Homo sapiens: one gene and its partners. The protein of the gene in region 1 purifies or fractionates together with the protein of each later gene. This does not show direct contact. Each region holds a gene or a part of one and is shown on either strand. Other genes may lie near its edges. The genes, in order: CTCF, TOP2A and RPL13A.

Region 1 (3,748 bases):
GGCTGGTCTTGAACTCCTGGCCTCAACTGATCCACCAGCCTTGGCCTCCCAAAGTGCTGGGATTACAGGCGTGAGCTACCGTGCCCGGCCCATTCACAAGATATAAGAGCCAAAAACTATGAATTGGCTGATTTGTTTTCTGCTTTCTATTATATATTCAATTTGGTTGGCATTTATTGAGTACTTACCATCCTGGGCACAGTGCTAAAGAGTAAAAACCGTGGCTGGGCGTGGTGGCTCACGCCTGTAGTCCCAGCACTTTGGGAGGCCGAGGCGGACAGATCACGAGGTCAGAAGTTCAAGACCAGCCTGGCCAACATAGTGAAACCCCGTATCTGCTAAAAATACAGAAAATTAGCCAGGTGTGGTGGTGGGCACCTGTAATCCCAACTACTCCGGAGGCTGAAGCAGGAGAATCACTTAAACCTGGGAGGCAGAGGTTGCAGTGAGCCAAGATCACGCCATTGCACTCCAGCCTGGGCGACAGTGCGAGACTCCGACTCAAAAAAAAAAAAAAAGTAAAAACCGGTTGGGCGCAGTGGCTCACACCTGTAATCCCAGCACTTTGGGAGGCCGAGGCAGGCGGATCACGAGGTCAGGAAATCGAGACCATCCTGGCTAACATGGTGAAACCCCGTCTCTACTAAAAATACAAAAAATTAGCCGGGCATGGTGGTGGGCGCCTGTAGTCCCAGCTACTCGGGAGGCTGAGGCAGGAGAATGGCGTGAACCTGGGAGGCGGAGCTTGCAGTGAGCGGAGATCGTGCCACTGCACCCTAGCCTGGGCAACAGAGCGAGACTCCGTCTCAAAAAAAAAATTAAAAAAAAAAAAACGACTTGTTAGATGTGGTTCTTATTCTCAGGGAATTCCTGATCTCATTGTCAGGAGAGAGGTGAATGTCAAGTTGATGGTATGACATGGGCAGTTTTGTGCAGTGTCTACAAACACGGCCATTGCAGTCTGGATCTAAGTTCTGAGTTTGGCTTCAAAAAACAAGGTCAAAAACCCTTGACAGGGTGGGGAAAATGGGGAATTGCTGTTGAGTGGGTATAAAGTTTCAGTTATGCAAGATGAGTAAGTTCTAGAGATCTGCTACACAACATAGTTCCTGTATTAATCGTATAGCATTATGCACTTTGAATTATGTTGAGGATGGATCTCATGATAAATATTATCACCAAAAACAAAATACAAGGAAATTTTGGAGGTGTATTTAGTGTTTTTTTTTTTCTTTTTTGAGACGGAGTTTCGTTCTTGTTGCCCAGGCTGCACAGTACAATGGCGCAATCTTGGCTCACCGCAACCTCCACCTCCCGGGTCAAACGATTCTCCTGCCTCAGCCTCCCAAGTAGCCAGGATTACATACAGGCATGCACCATCACACCTGGCTAATTTTGTATTTTTACTTAGGACGGGGTTTCTCCATGTTGTTCAGGGTGGTCTCGTACTCCCGACCTCAGGTGATCCACACACCTCAGCCTCCCAAAGTGCTGGGATTATAGGCGTGAGCCACCACGTGCTTAATAAAGCTACCTTAATAAAGCTTTTTACAAAACATTGGCAGACCCGGGCACAGTGGCTCAGTCACATGTATAATCCCAGCACTTTGGGAGGCTTAGGTGGGAGGATTGCTTCAGCCCAGGAGTTCAAGGCCAGTCTGGAAATGTGGCAAGACCCCATAATTGCAGAAAATTAAGCTAATTCATATATGCATCATCTCACATCCTTGTCATTTTTTGTGATGAGAACACTTAAAAATCTGCTCTCAGTTATTTTCAGGTATACGTTATTATTAACTGTAATATTCATGTTGTATAATAGATCTCTTGAACTTATTCCCACTGAAATTATATGTCCTTTACCAGTGTCTTCCCCACTACATGTGTAAGATTTAAATTAGTTTTGTTAGTAATTCTTTAATATCATCAGATATCCAGAGTTGAAATTTCTAATTGTCTTGTGTCACATCTTTTTCACCATTTATTGGTTTGAATCAGGATCCAAAGAAGATTCATGCATTGTGATTGATTACTGTCTCTTTAAGACTCTTTTATCTGTATCAGAGTTTCTCAGCCTCAGTGCTCTTGACATCTTGGGCCTGATAATTCTTTTTTTTTTTTTTTTTGAGATGGAATCTCGCTCTGTCGCCCAGGCTGGAGTGCAGTGGCGCGATCTTGGCTCACTGCAAGCTCCGCCTCCCAGGTTCACGCCATTCTCCTGCCTCAGCCTCCCAAGAGCTGGGACTACAGGCGCCCACCACCACGCCCGGCTAATTTTTTTGTATTTTTTAGTAGAGACGGGGTTTCACCGTGTTAGCCAGGATGGTCTCGATCTCCTGACCTCCGGTAATCTGCCCGCCTCAGCCTCCCAAAGTGCTGGGATTACAGGCGTGAGCCACCGTGCCCGGCCTGGCCTGATAATTCTTTGTGGTGGAGGACTGACCTGTGTCTTGGAGGATGTTTAATAGCATCTCTAGCTTTCACCCACGAGATAACAGTAGCACATCCCAGCCCAGTAGTGACAACCAAAAATGTGTTAGCCAAATGTTCCTAGAGGCAAAGTCACCCCAGGCTGAGAACTACTGATCTACTGGTTCTCCCTCCAATCAGTCTTCCCTTGTATTCTTCTTGTTATCTATTTGCAGAAGAACCTGAGTATAATCTTGCAGTGTTTCCCTCGGTATGGATTTCACTGATTTAATCCCTGTAGTATAATTTAACATCCTGAGTCACCAATTTCCTGTTAATTGGGTTGGATCTAGAGACTTGATTGGTTTCAGAGTTTTGGAGTTTGTTTGACAAAATTGCATTATAGGTAGTGGTTTTTTCTTTTTCTTTTTTTTTTTTTTTTTTTTGAGATGGAGTCTTGCTCTGTCCCCCACGCTGGAGCGCAGTGGTGCAATCTCGGCTCACTGCAAGCTCCGCCTCCTGGATTCAAGCTATTCTTCTGCCTCAGCCTCCCGAGTAGCTGGGACTACAGGCGCCCGCCACCATGCCTGGCTAATTTTTTTTGTATTTTTAGTAGAGACGGGGTTTCACCGTGTTAGCCAGGATGTTCTCGATCTCCTGACCTCGTGATCCGCCCGCCTCAGCCTCCCAAAGTGCTGGGATTACAGGCGTGAGCCACTGCACCTGGCCAGTAGTGGTTGTTTCTTTCATCAAGAGGCACATGTCTGTTGTGTCTTTTTTAATATTAACAACCATTGATGCCTAATTCATTCACCAAAGGGTCTTTTTGTTTTAAAATGTATATTTTTATTTAGACATGCTTTGCTTTAAATAACAATCTGTGTTCTCCCTTAATAAAGGCAGGGGAAATGGAAGGTGATGCAGTCGAAGCCATTGTGGAGGAGTCCGAAACTTTTATTAAAGGAAAGGAGAGAAAGACTTACCAGAGACGCCGGGAAGGGGGCCAGGAAGAAGATGCCTGCCACTTACCCCAGAACCAGACGGATGGGGGTGAGGTGGTCCAGGATGTCAACAGCAGTGTACAGATGGTGATGATGGAACAGCTGGACCCCACCCTTCTTCAGATGAAGACTGAAGTAATGGAGGGCACAGTGGCTCCAGAAGCAGAGGCTGCTGTGGACGATACCCAGATTATAACTTTACAGGTTGTAAATATGGAGGAACAGCCCATAAACATAGGAGAACTTCAGCTTGTTCAAGTACCTGTTCCTGTGACTGTACCTGTTGCTACCACTTCAGTAGAAGAACTTCAGGGGGCTTATGAAAATGAAGTGTCTAA
Region 2 (3,748 bases), on another chromosome or scaffold:
AACTTCACCAGTAATCAAAATACATGCAGCTAACAATAGCAACGAGCTACATAACAAAAACTAAGCAAAAGACGTACGGATCAATTGTGACTCTAATACAAGACATTTTTGGGTCCCTTTGTTTGTTGTCCGCAGCATTAACTGAAAGAAAATAAAATATACATTTGTAAGAAATTAGTGTTTTAAGAAACATTCTGTAACTCTAAGTAAGATATAGAAAAAAAAGTTCCCAAACAGCACAGGAGTGGCATTAACAAGGTGTTAATTTAGCAATTTTTGTCCATAGTACTGTTTCTACGAGAAGCTCAACCTCCTGGGCTCCAGGAAACCAGCTCACCTTTATCAACTGATTGAAATGACAGGAGCCCTGGCTACAGCAGGTTTGGTAGAAATGATACTTTTTGTTTTTACTTTTATCTTTTTTAAATTTTTATTTGGAATGATACTTCTTATGAAAGATTTGACCAGATCTTTATATTAAAGGATTTACTCACCTAGAATCTCATCAAAGATTTTGTACAAACCAGGAACAAAAGTGACTTCCCTATAGTTAATGCCAACATCTTCATCGTAAACCCACATTTGCTAGAAATAAGGCAAAGAAATACTGTTATTTTTATTCTATATTCATTGTTCTGTTATCATGATTACCATAAAGTGTTCATATTAAGTATTACCATATTTAGGCCAGTTCCAGTGACACTCAGTACATGAGAGATACAGAAAGGTCACACTCAGTACATGAAAGGTACAGAAAGAAGAGTATCCATTTCAACTACTAGGTTAACTGCCTTTGATGAGCTTGATTTTACCTGGGTCACTAATTCCACAGAACCAATGTAGGTGTCTGGGCGGAGCAAAATATGTTCCAATTGTGTTTTCTTTTGATAGATTCTTTCAACAGACAGTCTTTTCTTAGCATCTTCATTTTTCTTTATTTTGTTGACTTGCATATTTTCATTTACAGGCTAGCAATTAAAAAAAAAGAGAGAAAGAAGGGAATTTTTAATCATAAGTTTACCCTAAACTAGGAACAAAATGCCTACCATAGTGAGATGTCAACATGCATTGCAATCTGTTAGTAGGCAGTGGTGGAGTTGCCAGTTTTGTACAAATAGGACAATTTAAATTCGCTGCGGCCAGGTCCCCAGGTGTCAGGTTAAACAGACACATATTATCTCACCAAGTGGGTCTGTCTGGAAACCTCTTTTCTTGAGCAACATGGTAGATGTCATCAATAAAATACACCCACTTCTTTCAGTTCCTGCATACATTATTTACCGAGTGCCTATTATTATAAATTATTTACGGTGTCCCGAGCACACGACACCGTAAATAATTCTAGTTCGGCAGCAGCAGTTTGGGCGGCTATCCGTTCAATCCCTTGGCCACCTGAGCGTTGTGAACTCAGGAAGGGGGCGCTTTTGTAAGCTGGCCAGCTGCTCCAGAGAAACACTGTGCTAGGCTCTGCCCTTTCCAAGATCGGGGACATTCAAGACCGTTTTCAAGCAGCGGGCAGGAGGGGAAAGCATCTGTACGCGCGACTCAATAACGTCGCACCCGGGCCGCTGTAACATGGATCCACTACGGGACCAACGGACTCCTGCCCCTAGAAACAGGGCAACAACGCACGACACCCTGGAAGCCGGGTCATACTTCACTACTAGCACCAGAAGGGGCTTCCGCCTCTCCACGATCACCCCGGAACCGGGAATGGAGAATATGGGCTCCCAAGCCGGTCGCCGGCCTGACCGCAGCCCCAGAGCTTCACCCGTCACGGGCGGCCAGAGAGATGCCCGGGCCGCGCGGAGGCTCCACCGCCAGTCCCCCCCGCGAGCCGTACCTGCAATGGTGACACTTCCATGGTGACGGTCGTGAAGGGGCTCAAGAACCCTGAAAGCGACTAAACAGGCAGGACCCCACGAGACCACCCCCGACCAAGCCGCTTCTCCACAGACGCGCGTCGGTTAGGAGAGCTCCACTTGAACCTTCCTTTAGCCCGCCCGAAGCAGACCAGCCAATCCCTGACTCGCTCTCACCGTCTCCGTCCAGAAGAACCAATCGTAGCTTGCCTTTTATATCCACCTATGAACGGCTGAGTTGGCCGGGGTTTGTTTGAATAAACCAATCAGGTTAGGGAGGCGGGACTAGAGAGGCTTCAAAAGGCACCACTCGGCGTCATAGCGGAGAGATTGACAGGGAATCTGGCCAATGAGAAGGGCTCACTTGTTTTCTCGTGCGGAAAGCTTGGAAGAGATGGGCTTTGGAAGCGGGAAGGGGTGGCCTGAGGCAAAAGTGTGCAGGAGAAAAGCAAAGGATGTTTATTCTCCAGGAACTGCCAATCTATTTAAGATCCCTGAAATCTAAAAACTGTCCTCTGTTCTGACGTTGTTAGCGAGGGGAATGGGAGCCTTAGCTTCGTTTTCCTGAGGAAACTGAGTGCCGGCTTTCTGGACAGGCAGCCTGGCTGCTTGGTTGAAGCGAACAGATTCTGGCATCTGCCTCAACCCCGCCCCCTTTACCCTCGAATTCATTTTTCAAAGAAATAAAAGTAGGCTGTGTGCGGTGGCTGGAGTCTGTATTCGCAGCACATTGGGAGGCCGAGGCGGGAGGATCGCTGGAGCCTAGGAGTTGGAGACCAGCCTGGGCAACATAGCGAGACCCCGTCTCTACCCAAAAAGGAAAAAAAATAGCCAGGCGAGGCATCGCACACCTGTAACTCCAGCTCCGGAGGCTGAGGAGGGAGGATCGCTTGAGCCCCGGGGATCGGAGATCGAGGCGCCTTGAACCGTGATTGCTCCACTGCACTCCAGCCTGAGTGACAGAGCGAGGCCACCTCAAGAGATAAATACATAAATAAATAAATAATAAAAATAATTAAAATAAAAGTGCCACAGTTGTGGTTTGGGGGTTCCATATAGTGGAAGGATGTAGAAAGGCTTTGCAAAATGGAGGGCAGCATTCAGGTCCCCAGTAGAGCAGCGCTGGACTGCAACTGGTAAATCGAAAGGGATAACTTGTGGTGGTAGCCTCTTGAGCTGAGGGTGGGCTCAGCCGTCCGGGGCTGAAACCTTTTCCGCAGCCAGCTGGCCAGATACCCTCCGACTGGCTACTTTTGCTCACCTCCGTGAACCCTGCAGTCCAGAACAGCTGTTCCAATTTGACAAGGAAATGCCAAGACTGAAGCTTTTTTGTTTGCTTGTTTTTTTGTTGCTTTTTTTTTTTTTGAGATGGAATCTCACTCTGTCGCCCAGGCTGGAGTGCAATGGCGCGATCTAGGCTCACTGCAACCTTCACCTCGCGGGTTCAAGCGATTCTCCTGCCTCAGCCTCCCGTGTAGCTAGAATTACAGGCGCCTGCCACCACGCCTGGCTAATTTTTGTATTTTTTTAGTAGAGACAGGGTTTTGCCATGTTGACCAGGTTGGTTTCAAACTTCTGACCTCAAGTGATCTGCCCGCCTCAGCCTCTCAAAGTGCTGGGATTACAGGTGTGAGTCACTGTGCCCGGCGAAGACTGAAGTTTTAAAATTACTCTTACATATAAATGTTTGAGTGGATTAAACAAAGTTATTACCCTTACAAGAAGCCAGAAAAAAAAAAACTGCACAATTTGAGTGCCTACTAATTCCAGCTGAGCCACCTCTTTCCATTCATTGCTTCCTTCCTCTACCTGGGTTTCAGTCCCAACTCAGCAATTTGCCATTCGTGTCATTTCGATGGAGGAAGCCTCTCGGTGCTTCCGTTTCC
Region 3 (3,748 bases), on another chromosome or scaffold:
CTCCTGCCTCAGCCTCCCAAGTAGCTGGGATTACAGACATGCACCACCATGCCTAGCAAATTTTGTTTTTGTTTTTGTTTTTTTCTTTTGAGACAGACTTTTGCTTTTATTGCCAAGGCTGGAGTGCAATGGTGCAATCTCGACTCACTGCAACCTCCGCCTCCCGGGTTCAAGCAATTCTCCTGCCTCAGCTAATTTTGTAGTTTTAGTAGAAACGGTTTCTCCATGTTAGCTAGGCTGGTCTCAAACTCCCAACCTCAGGTGATCCGCCCGCCTCGACCTCCTAAAGTGCTGGAATTACAGGCGTGAGCCACTGTGCCTGGCCCTAATTTTGTATTTTTAGTAGAGATGGGGTTTCTCCCTGTTGGTCAGGCTGGTCTCAAACTCCCAACCTAAGGTGATCCACCAGCCTCAGCCTCCCAAACTGCTGGGATTATAGGCATGAGCCACCGCGCCCGGGGAAATATAGGGAACATTTCTATCATGGCCACGTTCTCTTGGACAGCAATGCCCTAGCACATAGTAAGCGCTTGCTGGGAATGGAGTTGTTTTGGGCATAAATCTGTGGCCCGCCCCAAGCTAAGCTACTTTCCCTCTCCTCTCTCAGCGGAGCCTTAAACAACGCAGTGAGACAGACATCTATCATCCCATTTTACAGGGGAGGATACTGAGGCACACAGAGGGGAGTCACCAGCCAGAGGATGCATAGCCTGGACACAGAGGAAGTTGGCTAGAGGCCGGTCCCTTCCTTGGGCCCCTCTCATTCCCTCCCCAGAATGGAGGCAACGCCAGAATCCAGCACCGGCCCCATTTACCCAACTCTGTACAAAGCCCTTGTCCCCATGAAATTGTATATAAATCATCCTTTTCTACCAGCTCTGGCCAGGTCTGTCTATGGATGGGTGTGAATGGGGTAGTTTTGATTTCAGAATCTTGGTTTTTGAATTGCAATGCAATGTTTCATTCAATACGTGTTTTCTGAGGTCCCCTGGAGCCCCGGGCCGGCGCTGGGCAATGTCAGAGCCTGGATTTGAGTCAGAACCAGCCCAGGTGCCCCAGGTCTCCTTGGCTATGGACGAGAAGACAAGGGATTCAGCGAGCCTGGGTGCAGGATGCCATAGGCTACTATGGAGATAAAACAGAGGCAGTGTGAGGGGCAACTCACCCAGGCAGGGAGAGCAGAGAGGCTTTCCAGAGCCAAATGGCATTGCGATGGTGACAAGCCAGATTTGGAGGGGGTGGGGAGGGCATCCTGGGCAAGGGACCCAGCTGAAGCAAAGGCCGACAGTCCAGAAAGTGAGAAGTTCCTCTGAGGAACGCTCAGTGGATTGGTGCAGCCAGGCAACTAGAAGCCATTCCTTGATCCACTCTTAGAGCCCCTGGGGAAGACCACCTCCATCTGTTTTACAGATGGATAAACTGAGGCCCAGATAAGGCCAAGGGTTTCTCCAGGTCACAGTGAAGTCGACCAGACACAGGAATCCAAATCTCTAAGCCTAGAATGGGCAAGGCTCCGGGGCTCACGCCGGTAATCCCAGCACTTTGGGAGGCCGAAACGGGAGGATCGCTTGAGCCCAGGAGTTCGAGATCAGCCTGGCCAACATGTCAGACTCCCCCCGTTCCCGGGCCACAACAAAATATATATATATATATATATTAGCCAGGCATGGTGGCGCGCCCCTGTAGTCCAAGTTACTCGAGAGGCTGAGGCAGGAGGATCCCTTGAGCCCAGGAAGTGGAGGCTGCGGTGAGCCATGATCGCCCCACAGCACTCTGGTGTGGACAACACAGCGAGACCCTGTCTCACAAAATAAAGTAAGCCCGGACTGAGTGCGGAAAGGCGGGCCTGGCGGGTCTGGTCTCCCCATGCGGGCCACCAGAGGCCCTGCAGCCTTCAGTCGCTTGAAGGGGTAATGGCGCTTCCACTCACAAACATGGCGGACAGAGCGTGTGAACGAGATGAACAGCCCCTCAAAAATATGGCCGCCGAGGCTGGACGGCCGTGCCCCAGCAGCACCGCCTCCGCGCCCCACGTGATCTCTCGCCGGGCACAGCGCTGACCGCGGAGGTCCAACCGGAAGAATGTCCGGATTGGACATTCGGAAGAGGGCCCGCCTTCCCTGGGGAATCTCTGCGCACGCGCAGAACGCTTCGACCAATGAAAACACAGGAAGCCGTCCGCGCAACCGCGTTGCGTCACTTCTGCCGCCCCTGTTTCAAGGGATAAGAAACCCTGCGACAAAACCTCCTCCTTTTCCAAGCGGCTGCCGAAGATGGCGGAGGTGCAGGTATGGGCTCCGCGCGGGCCGGGGCGGCAAGGGGCCGGGTGGGATCCAGGCCGGAATGGGGTCGCACCCTCTCTGTCTTGCATGTTTTGCGGAGCTTAACATCCATAATGAAGCAAAATGGAAGTCTTTTGGGATAAGGGGAATCTGTAGGAAATGCCGCGGCTCTCTTTAGGCCTAGGGTTGGCTACAATGTGGCATTTCCTTCTCGAGGCGAGGGTGATAGAGCTTCCAGCACAGGACAGGTATTTTGCAACTAGATTTTGCTTACCTTGAACTCGGGTAGTGGGTGGGGGCCCTGGGGTAGAGTCTTGGCCGAATTGGACCCTTGTGTGTCCTCAGCGATGAGGAACACGCGGAAGTGTGGCCGGGCGGTCTCGGGGCAATGAGAAACTGAGTTTTGGCCAAAATGGAAGGTATTTTTATCCCGCTCAGTGCGCGGGCTACTTTGATTTCACGTGGAGGTGTTAATCGGGGTCCCCTGCAGCTCCGGTTCTTTTAATTCTCAATGCCTTTCTGCGGGGGGTCGAGAGCTGTTGGCTGCGGGGCACTCTGGAATGAACTCGTTTTCCGTCGTTTTGGGGATTGGCGATTGTCCTGAGGCGTGTTACTGGAAGTCGAGAGCTGTGATGAATGGTTCCACAAGGATGGGACATCTTTTGGGCCTGACACCTGGGGGCCCTTTCCCTGGCTCCTGGTGTAGCTACTTAAGTATAAAGGAGGGATTGGCCCTGGAAAGGTTTCTTTGTGAGTAGTCTGTTGTTGGGGCGGGTGACATTTCAGAGCCAGGCCGATCTAGGCAAGTTGTGTTCACCAAGCATGTGTCTTTGTGCCTAGCACAGTTCGCAATGTTTTGCGTAGTTCAGTTAACCATATTCCTGAGGCAGTTACTGGTATCCTTGTTTTACAGAGGAGGAAATTAAATTGGAATTGGTGATTTTGGGCCAAGGTCACGACTTCAGGAAGTCTGTCTGGATTTTAGAGTCTTTGTACCAACGCTTACAAAGCATGTGTAACAACCAGTGTGTGCTTCATGCTTTTGCATTAAAACAATGAGGATTTCTACTTTTAGTGTTTTTTCTGAGACGGAGTCTCGCTGTGACACCCAGGCTGGAGTGCAATGGTGCGATCTTGGCTCATTGCAACCTCTGCTTCCCAAGTTCAAGTGATTCTCCTGCCTCAGCTTCCCGAGTACCTGGGACTGCAGGTGCCTGCCACGACGCTTGGCTAATTTTTGTGTTTTTAGTAGAGACAGGGTTTCACCATATTGGCCAGGATGGTCTCGAACTCCTGACCTCAACTGATCTGCCCACCTAGGCCTCTCAAAGTGCTGGGATTACAGGCGTGAGCCCCTGTGCCCGGCCAGGATTTCTACTCCGGAGGAAGCTGAGGTTCGGTGCCTGAGCAGTTTACCGGGGAAAGCAGAGTGCTCTATAGCAGAGCTAGCATGGGCTTTTGACTAC

What was found.
Region 2: the proteins of CTCF (region 1) and TOP2A purify together in Homo sapiens (affinity purification with mass spectrometry; 3 studies listed by BioGRID and IntAct, with this or other methods). This does not show direct contact.
Region 3: the proteins of CTCF (region 1) and RPL13A purify together in Homo sapiens (affinity purification with mass spectrometry; 4 studies listed by BioGRID and IntAct, with this or other methods). This does not show direct contact.

Annotation. Positions count from the first base shown.
Region 1 is NC_000016.10:67,607,516-67,611,263, forward strand, and holds part of CTCF (transcriptional repressor CTCF), read left to right. Parts: intron 1-3,308; 5' UTR 3,309-3,317; coding exon 3,318-3,748.
Region 2 is NC_000017.11:40,415,928-40,419,675, forward strand, and holds the start of TOP2A (DNA topoisomerase 2-alpha), read right to left. Parts: upstream 1,970-3,748; 5' UTR 1,865-1,969; coding exon 1,844-1,864; intron 1,758-1,843; exon of another isoform or gene 1,657-1,757; intron 969-1,656; coding exon 813-968; intron 586-812; coding exon 495-585; intron 142-494; coding exon 78-141; intron 1-77. UniProt on the Homo sapiens protein: Key decatenating enzyme that alters DNA topology by binding to two double-stranded DNA molecules, generating a double-stranded break in one of the strands, passing the intact strand through the broken strand, and religating the broken strand.
Region 3 is NC_000019.10:49,485,357-49,489,104, forward strand, and holds the start of RPL13A (large ribosomal subunit protein uL13), read left to right. Parts: upstream 1-2,251; 5' UTR 2,252-2,273; coding exon 2,274-2,288; intron 2,289-3,748. Other genes in the region: FLT3LG (fms-related tyrosine kinase 3 ligand), read left to right, coding at 659-846. UniProt on the Homo sapiens protein: Associated with ribosomes but is not required for canonical ribosome function and has extra-ribosomal functions.